2 separate regions of the Homo sapiens genome follow, and region 2 is reported to be linked to region 1. The links are microRNA targets in miRTarBase. Many come from high-throughput screens and were not tested one by one. Region 1 holds a microRNA gene; the other region holds the end of a gene's coding sequence.
Evidence for each region. Region 1 holds the annotated microRNA hsa-miR-6724-5p (CUGGGCCCGCGGCGGGCGUGGGG, at 1,967-1,989, shown strand). A microRNA usually pairs through its seed, bases 2 to 8, with sites in the 3' UTR of a target mRNA and lowers its output. Matches are read on the target gene's strand: a 7mer-m8 pairs with bases 2 to 8, a 7mer-A1 pairs with bases 2 to 7 and ends in A, and an 8mer does both.

Region 1 (4,374 bases):
CTTTCTTTTGTTTCTTTCCTGCTTGCTTTCTTGCTTGATTGCTTTCGTGCTTTCTTGCTTTCTTGTTTTCTTTCTTTCTTTTGTTTCTTTCTTTCTTGCTTCCTTGTTTTCTTGCTTTCTTGCTTGCTTGCTTTCGTGCTTTCTTGTTTTCTTGCTTTCTTTCTTTTGTTTCTTTCTTGCTTGCTTTCTTGCTTCCTTGTTTTCTTGCTTTCTTGCTTGCTTGCTTTCGTGCTTTCTTTCTTGCTTTCTTTTCTTTCTTTCTTTTCTTTTTCTTTCTTTCTTGCTTTCTTTTCTTTCATTCATTCATTCTTTCTTTCTTTCCTTTCTTTCTTTCTTTCTTTCTATCTTTCTTTCTTTCTTTCTTTCTGTTTCGTCCTTTTGAGACAGAGTTTCACTCTTGTTTCCACGGCTAGAGTGCAATGGCGCGATCTTGGCTCACCGCACCTTCCGCCTCCCGGGTTCGAGCGCTTCTCCTGCCTCAGCCTCCCGATTAGCGGGGATTACAGGGAGGCACCCCCACGCCTGGCTTGGCTGATGTTTGTGTTTTTAGTAGGCACGCCGTGTCTCTCCATGTTGCTCAGGCTGGTCTCCAACTCCCGACCTCCTGTGATGCGCCCACCTCGGCCTCTCGAAGTGCTGGGATGACGGGCGTGAGCCACCGTGCCCGGCCTGTTGACTCATTTCGCTTTTTTATTTCTTTCGTTTCCACGCGTTTACTTATATGTATTAATGTAAACGTTTCTGTACGCTTATATGCAAACAACGACAACGTGTATCTCTGCATTGAATACTCTTGCGTATGGTAAATACGTATCGGTTGTATGGAAATAGACTTCTGTATGATAGATGTAGGTGTCTGTGTTATACAAATAAATACACATCGCTCTATAAAGAAGGGATCGTCGATAAAGACGTTTATTTTACGTATGAAAAGCGTCGTATTTATGTGTGTAAATGAACGAGCGTACGTAGTTATCTCTGTTTTCTTTCTTCCTCTCCTTCGTGTTTTTCTTCCTTCCTTTCTTCCTTTCTCTCCTTCTTTAGGTTTTTCTTCCTCTCTTCCTTTCCTTCTTTCTCTCTTTCTGTCCTTTTTTCCTTCGTGCTTTATTTCTCTTTCGTTCCCTGTGTTTCCTTCTTTTTTCTTTCCTCTCTGTTTCTTTTTCCCTTCTTTCCTTCGTTTCTTTCCTCATTCTTTCTCTCTTTTTCGTGTTTCTTTCCTTCCCGTCTGTCTTTTAAAAAATGGAGTGTTTCAGAAGTTTACTTTGTGTATCTACGTTTTCTAAATTGTCTCTCTTTTCTCCATTGTCTTCCTCCCTCCCTCCCTCCCTCCCTCCCTGCTCCCTTCCCTCCCTCCTTCCCTTTCGCCATCTGTCTCTTTTCCCCACTCCCCTCCCCCCGTCTGTCTCTGCGTGGATTCCGGAAGAGCCTACGCATTCTGCCTCTCCGTGTGTCTGCAGCGACCCGCGACCGAGTCCTTGTGTGTTCTTTCTCCCTCCCTCCCTCCCTCCCTCCCTCCCTCCCTGCTTCCGAGAGGCATCTCCAAACACCCACGCGCCGTGGGTTGTCTTCTGACTCTGTCGCGGTCGAGGCAGAGACGCGTTTTGGGCACCGTTTGTGTGGGGTTGGGGCAGAGGGGCTGCGTTTTCGGCCTCGGGAAGAGCTTCTCGACTCACGGTTTCGCTTTCGCGGTCCACGGGCCGCCCTGCCAGCCGGATCTGTCTCGCTGACGTCCGCGGCGGTTGTCGGGCTCCATCTGGCGGCCGCTTTGAGATCGTGCTCTCGGCTTCCGGAGCTGCGGTGGCAGCTGCCGAGGGAGGGGACCGTCCCCGCTGTGAGCTAGGCAGAGCTCCGGAAAGCCCCGGTCGTCAGCCCGGCTGGCCCGGTGGCGCCAGAGCTGTGGCGCGTCGCTTGTGAGTCACAGCTCTGGCGTGCAGGTTTATGTGGGGGAGAGGCTGTCGCTGCGCTTCTGGGCCCGCGGCGGGCGTGGGGCTGCCCGGGCCGGTCGACCAGCGCGCCGTAGCTCCCGAGGCCCGAGCCGCGACCCGCGGGGACCCGCCGCGCGTGGCGCGGGAGGCTGGGGACGCCCTTCCCGGCCCGGTCGCGGGTCCGCGCTCATCCTGGCCGTCTGAGGCGGCGGCCGAATTCGTTTCCGAGTCCCCGTGGGGAGCCGGGGACCGTCCCGCCCCCGTCCCCCGGGTGCCGGGGAGCGGTCCCCGGGCCGGGCCGCGGTCCCTCTGCCGCGATCCTTTCTGGCGAGTCCCCGTGCGGAGTCGGAGAGCGCTCCCTGAGCGCGCGTGCGGCCCGAGAGGTCGCGCCTGGCCGGCCTTCGGTCCCTCGTGTGTCCCGGTCGTAGGAGGGGCCGGCCGAAAATGCTTCCGGCTCCCGCTCTGGAGACACGGGCCGGCCCCCTGCGTGTGGCACGGGCGGCCGGGAGGGCGTCCCCGGCCCGGCGCTGCTCCCGCGTGTGTCCTGGGGTTGACCAGAGGGCCCCGGGCGCTCCGTGTGTGGCTGCGATGGTGGCGTTTTTGGGGACAGGTGTCCGTGTCGCGCGTCGCCTGGGCCGGCGGCGTGGTCGGTGACGCGACCTCCCGGCCCCGGGGGAGGTATATCTTTCGCTCCGAGTCGGCATTTTGGGCCGCCGGGTTATTGCTGACACGCTGTCCTCTGGCGACCTGTCGCTGGAGAGGTTGGGCCTCCGGATGCGCGCGGGGCTCTGGCCTACCGGTGACCCGGCTAGCCGGCCGCGCTCCTGCTTGAGCCGCCTGCCGGGGCCCGCGGGCCTGCTGTTCTCTCGCGCGTCCGAGCGTCCCGACTCCCGGTGCCGGCCCGGGTCCGGGTCTCTGACCCACCCGGGGGCGGCGGGGAAGGCGGCGAGGGCCACCGTGCCCCCGTGCGCTCTCCGCTGCGGGCGCCCGGGGCGGCCGCGACAACCCCACCCCGCTGGCTCCGTGCCGTGCGTGTCAGGCGTTCTCGTCTCCGCGGGGTTGTCCGCCGCCCCTTCCCCGGAGTGGGGGGTTGGCCGGAGCCGATCGGCTCGCTGGCCGGCCGGCCGGCCTCCGCTCCCGGGGGGCTCTTCGTGATCGATGTGGTGACGTCGTGCTCTCCCGGGCCGGGTCCGAGCCGCGACGGGCGAGGGGCGGACGTTCGTGGCGAACGGGACCGTCCTTCTCGCTCCGCCCCGCGGGGGTCCCCTCGTCTCTCCTCTCCCCGCCCGCCGGCGGTGCGTGTGGGAAGGCGTGGGGTGCGGACCCCGGCCCGACCTCGCCGTCCCGCCCGCCGCCTTCTGCGTCGCGGGTGCGGGCCGGCGGGGTCCTCTGACGCGGCAGACAGCCCTCGCTGTCGCCTCCAGTGGTTGTCGACTTGCGGGCGGCCCCCCTCCGCGGCGGTGGGGGTGCCGTCCCGCCGGCCCGTCGTGCTGCCCTCTCGGGGGGTTTGCGCGAGCGTCGGCTCCGCCTGGGCCCTTGCGGTGCTCCTGGAGCGCTCCGGGTTGTCCCTCAGGTGCCCGAGGCCGAACGGTGGTGTGTCGTTCCCGCCCCCGGCGCCCCCTCCTCCGGTCGCCGCCGCGGTGTCCGCGCGTGGGTCCTGAGGGAGCTCGTCGGTGTGGGGTTCGGGGCGGTTTGAGTGAGACGAGACGAGACGCGCCCCTCCCACGCGGGGAAGGGCGCCCGCCTGCTCTCGGTGAGCGCACGTCCCGTGCTCCCCTCTGGCGGGTGCGCGCGGGCCGTGTGAGCGATCGCGGTGGGTTCGGGCCGGTGTGACGCGTGCGCCGGCCGGCCGCCGAGGGGCTGCCGTTCTGCCTCCGACCGGTCGTGTGTGGGTTGACTTCGGAGGCGCTCTGCCTCGGAAGGAAGGAGGTGGGTGGACGGGGGGGCCTGGTGGGGTTGCGCGCACGCGCGCACCGGCCGGGCCCCCGCCCTGAACGCGAACGCTCGAGGTGGCCGCGCGCAGGTGTTTCCTCGTACCGCAGGGCCCCCTCCCTTCCCCAGGCGTCCCTCGGCGCCTCTGCGGGCCCGAGGAGGAGCGGCTGGCGGGTGGGGGGAGTGTGACCCACCCTCGGTGAGAAAAGCCTTCTCTAGCGATCTGAGAGGCGTGCCTTGGGGGTACCGGATCCCCCGGGCCGCCGCCTCTGTCTCTGCCTCCGTTATGGTAGCGCTGCCGTAGCGACCCGCTCGCAGAGGACCCTCCTCCGCTTCCCCCTCGACGGGGTTGGGGGGGAGAAGCGAGGGTTCCGCCGGCCACCGCGGTGGTGGCCGAGTGCGGCTCGTCGCCTACTGTGGCCCGCGCCTCCCCCTTCCGAGTCGGGGGAGGATCCCGCCGGGCCGGGCCCGGCGTCCCAGCGGGTTGGGACGCGGCGGCCGGCGGGCGGTGGGTGTG
Region 2 (4,374 bases), not on the chromosome of region 1:
TGGGAGGCCAAGGAAGGAGGATGGCTTGAGGCCAGGCATTCAAGACCAGCCTGGACAACATGGTGAGACCCCATAGCTATAAAAAGTAAACAATTAGCCGGGCGCGGTGGCTCACGCCTGTAATTCCAGCACTTTGGGAGGCCGAGGCGGGTGGATCACGAGGTCAATAGATCGAGACCATCCTGGCCAACATGGTGAAACCCCATCTCTACTAAAAATACAAAAGTTAGCTGGGCGTGGTGGTGGCACACGCCTGTAATCCCAGCTACTCGGGAGGCCGAGGCAGGAGAATCGCTTGAACCCAGGAGGCGGAGGTTGCAGTGAGCCGAGATCGCGTCATTGCACTACAGCCTGGCAACAGAGCGAGACTCCATCTCAAAAAAAAATAATAATAATAATAGTAATAATAAATTGGCCAGGCGTGGTGATGGCAGTGTTGTCATTGCTTTAAGAGGCAGGAACAGGGGGAAAAGACCCAGCAGTCTAACCACACAGACAAGTCCCAAGTTAAGCACTTCTGTGTGACTTGGGGGCTGTTGATAAAGATCAGAAATAACCTATGTGGATCACCCAGCAAAATGACCAGTATGAAAAGATGTTCAGTGGTAGAAAATGAAATAAGCATTGTGACTACAACTCACTCAATAAGCATTCATTGAACACTGGTCACTGGTAAACTGCTATGAAGAAATCTCAGCTGGGTGCAGTGGCTCACGCTTGTAATCCCAGCACTTTAAAGGGAGACCAAGGTGGGCAGATGGATCACTTTAGGTCAAGCGTTCGAGAACAGCCTGGCCAACATGGTGAAACCCCATCTCTACTAAAAACACAAAATTAGCCGGGCATGGTGGCAGGTGCCTGTAATCCCAGCTACTTGGGAGGCTGAGGCAGGAGAATCGTTTGAACCCGGGAGGTGGAGATTGTAGTGAGCTGAGATCACAACACTGCACTCCAACCTGGGAAACAGAGCAAGACTCCATCTCAAAAAGAAAAAAAATCTCAAGCTTATTGGATAGATAAATGCACAGGTAGATAGATGGATATTGAATGAATAAATAGTTCAGTGGATTAAAAACTGGTTAATGAAGAAATGGATGGGTAAATGGATGGAAATATGAATGAATGCATGATGGATAAGGACAAATGAAATAGACAAATGTACAAATGAAAGCAAAGGAAAAAGAGATGCTCAATAGAAATGAATAAGGATGAGAATCAATGCTAGACATGAATGAGTGAATGGTGAATGAAGGAGTGATTGAATGGATGAATACATGGAGTTAAGTTGAAGTACAAACTCGGCCAAGACTTCTTTTTCTCTGCTTTGGGTGGAAATACATTTTAAAAAAAAGAGGGCCGGGCACGGTGGCTCATGCCTGTAATCCCAGCACTTTGGGAGGCTGAGGCGGGCGGATCACCTGAGTTTGGGAGTTCGAGGCCAGCCTGACCTACACAGAGAAACCCTGTTTCTACTCAAAATACAAAATTAGCCAGGTGTGGTGGCTCACACCTGTAATCCCAGCTACTCGGGAGGCTGAGGCAGGAGAATCACTTGAACCTGGGAGGCGGAGGTTGTGGTGAGCCGAGATGGCGCCATTGCACTCCAGCCTGGGCAACAAGAGCGAAAGTCCACCTCAAAAAAAATAAAATAAAATAAAATAAAATAAAAAAAGAGGGAAAAAGGAAAAAAAAAGACTCCCTGATGTGCCACTGACTTCCTGTACATGTTTAGGTAAACTTAATATCACCTCTCTTTCCACCATTTTCCCATTTATAAAGTGGGAAGACTGGATTTGATGACATCACAGCCTCATCCAGGTCTGGTGCCTTCCTTATAACCTGCGTCTCTTCTTTATTCTTTTTTTTTTTTTTTTTTTTTTGAGACGGAGTTTTGCTCTGTCACCCAGGCTGGAGTGTGCAGTGATGCAATCTCGGCTCACTACAACCTCCGCCTCCTGGGTTCAAGCAATTCTCCTGCCTCAGCCTCCCGAGTAGCTGGGATTACAGGCGCCCGCCACCATGCCCGGCTAATTTTTGTATTTTTAGTAGAGACGGGGTTTTACCATGTTGTCCAGGCTGGTCTCGAACTTCTGACTTCGTGATCCACCTGCCTCAGCCTCCCAAAGTGCTAGGATCACAGGTGTGAGCCAGCACCCCCGGCTTATTCCTTTTTTAAAATTGTTATTATTTCCCACAGCCACATATGCCGGGGAGGTTGTCCCACATATGTTCTACCAAGGCCCCTCTGGCACTGAGATCAAACCCCGGAAGACCCGCTCAGTCTCTCCTCCCGTCTTTTCAACACGTTAGCGCCCCCAGGTGGCTAATTAGACTTCAAAATTCAGTTCTTGAGGCGGGCGGATCACTTGAGGTCAGGAGTTCAAGACCAGTCTGGTCAACATGGTGAAACCCCGTCTCTACTAAAAATACAAACATTAGCCGGACATGGTGGTACGCACCTGTAATCCCAGCTATTCGGGAGGCCGAGGCAGGTGGATCACTTGAGGTCAGGAGTTCGAGACCACCCTGGCCAATTTGGCAAAACTCCATCTCTACTAAAAATACAAAAATTAGCTGGGCGTGATGGCGCACACCTGTAATCCCAGCTACTCAGGAGACTGAGGCACGAGAATCACTTGAACCCGGGAGGCGGATGTTGCAGTGAACCGAGATCACGCCACTGCACTCCAGCCTGGGTGGAGTGAGATCTTCTCTCAAAAAAAAGAAAGAAAGAAAGAAAGAAAAAGTCGTGCTTGATTATGCTTGATGGCAAAAAGGTGAGACCTTCCTTTCGGCACTGAGTCTGGTAGAAATCGGTGTTACAGGGTAGCTAACATTTATTGAACACTTACTACGGGCCAGTTACTGCTTTAAATGTTTTATGTGTATTACCCACTGACTCCTACAACAATCCTATGAAGTGGGTTTTATCAGTGCATCCATTTTACCGTCAAGGCAAGAGAGAGTTGGGGAAGGGCGCTTTCTGAATGCTGCTACCGTGTCCAGAGTTGGTTCCTTCCTGTGGGTTTGTGGTCTCGCTGACTTTAAGAATGGAGCCAGGGACCTTCGTGGTGAGTGTTACAGCGCTTAAAGATGGCACGGACCTAAAGAGTTAGCAGCAGCAAGATTTATTGTGTAGAGCAAGAGAACAAAGCTCCCACAACGTGGAAGCAGACTCTGGTGGGGTGCCGCGCTCGCCAGCTTTTATTCCCTTATTGTCCCCGCCCGTGTCCTGCTGATTGGTCCATTTTACAGAGCGCTGATTGGTCCATCTTACAGAGTGCTGATTGGTCCATTTTACAATCCTCTTGTAAGACAGAAAAGTTCTCCAGGTCCCCATTCAACCCAGGAAGTCCAGCTGGCTTCACGTCTCACTACTACCTTTCTGTAGCTGCTACTACTACAGTGAGTAGACGGCAGTGCTGGGATTCGAACCCTCTGTCTTCTGGCTTGGAAGTCTTAACCACTAATCGCGTCTTCCTTTCAGCTACTCCTTGGGAAAGGCCTGGAAAGAAGCTACAGCACAGGGCACAGCGGGGTCTAAGGACCGTTCCGCGGAGCTCAGCCAGCAGGACTGTGGGGCTGCAGGAAAGGACAGTCCAGCCCAGGGTCCCAGCTTCTCCGCCACTCAGGTTGGAAGTCTCGGGCTGCAGTGCTCCTGGGGCTCAGGGGCGGATACCAGCAGGAGCGCGGTTCTGACTGCGCCAGTCAAAAGTGACCAGCGCGCCCAGGGAGATGAGGACCAGCCCGGCCAGCCCCAGGCGGACTAGGTTCCCCCGGGTGTAGTCGGAGGAGCCAGAGTCTGCGGGCGGAGCCGGGAGAGAGGGGCCATCAGCTCCCGGACCCCAAAGTCTGGGCCCTGAACTCCAGGTTTCCAGCCCCTGGGGTGGACTTAGGGACCTGACTCTACAGTCTCAAAGTTGAGGGGGAGTCGATGGAGGCTTCAACTCCTGGGTCCAGGAAGAAGGGGCTGGGGCCTGGACTGCTGGATCAGGAAGGAGGGGCTGGGGGCCTGGAGTCCTGGGTCCAGGAAGGAGGGGCTGGGGGCCTGGAGTCCTGGGTCTGAGGGAGGAGGTACTGGGGCCCGGGAATCCTGGGTCTGAGGGAGGAGGAGCTGGAGGACTAGACTCCTGGATCTGAGGGAGGAGGGGCTGGGTCCCAGGAATCCTGGGTCTGAGGGAGGAGGGGCTGCAGGACTAGACCCCTGGGTCTGAAGGAGGAGAGGCTGGGGGCCTGGGCTCCTGGGTCTGAGGGCGGAGGTCCTGGGGCCTGCATTCCTGGGGCGGAGGAGGCGGGCCGGGCCTCAGGGCCCTCACCTTCCCAGCTGATGACCAGCACCTCGCTGCGCTGCGACAGCACGTAGGGCGCGGAGGG

Region 2: the mRNA of OSCAR is a reported target of hsa-miR-6724-5p. The part of its 3' UTR that is shown has no 7-base or 8-base seed match.

What each region holds. Positions count from the first base shown.
Region 1 is chr21:8,247,549-8,251,922 of GRCh38, forward strand. MIR6724-2 (microRNA 6724-2) reads left to right here and starts at 1,957; the gene lies at 1,957-2,048.
Region 2 is chr19:54,091,556-54,095,929 of GRCh38, forward strand. It overlaps OSCAR (osteoclast associated Ig-like receptor), which reads right to left. Exons shown (of 5, transcript NM_133169.6): 4 at 4,317-4,374; 5 at 3,113-3,802. The coding sequence ends at 3,666. Among named protein-coding and RNA genes, the nearest start is that of OSCAR, 7.1 kb to the right of the region's middle.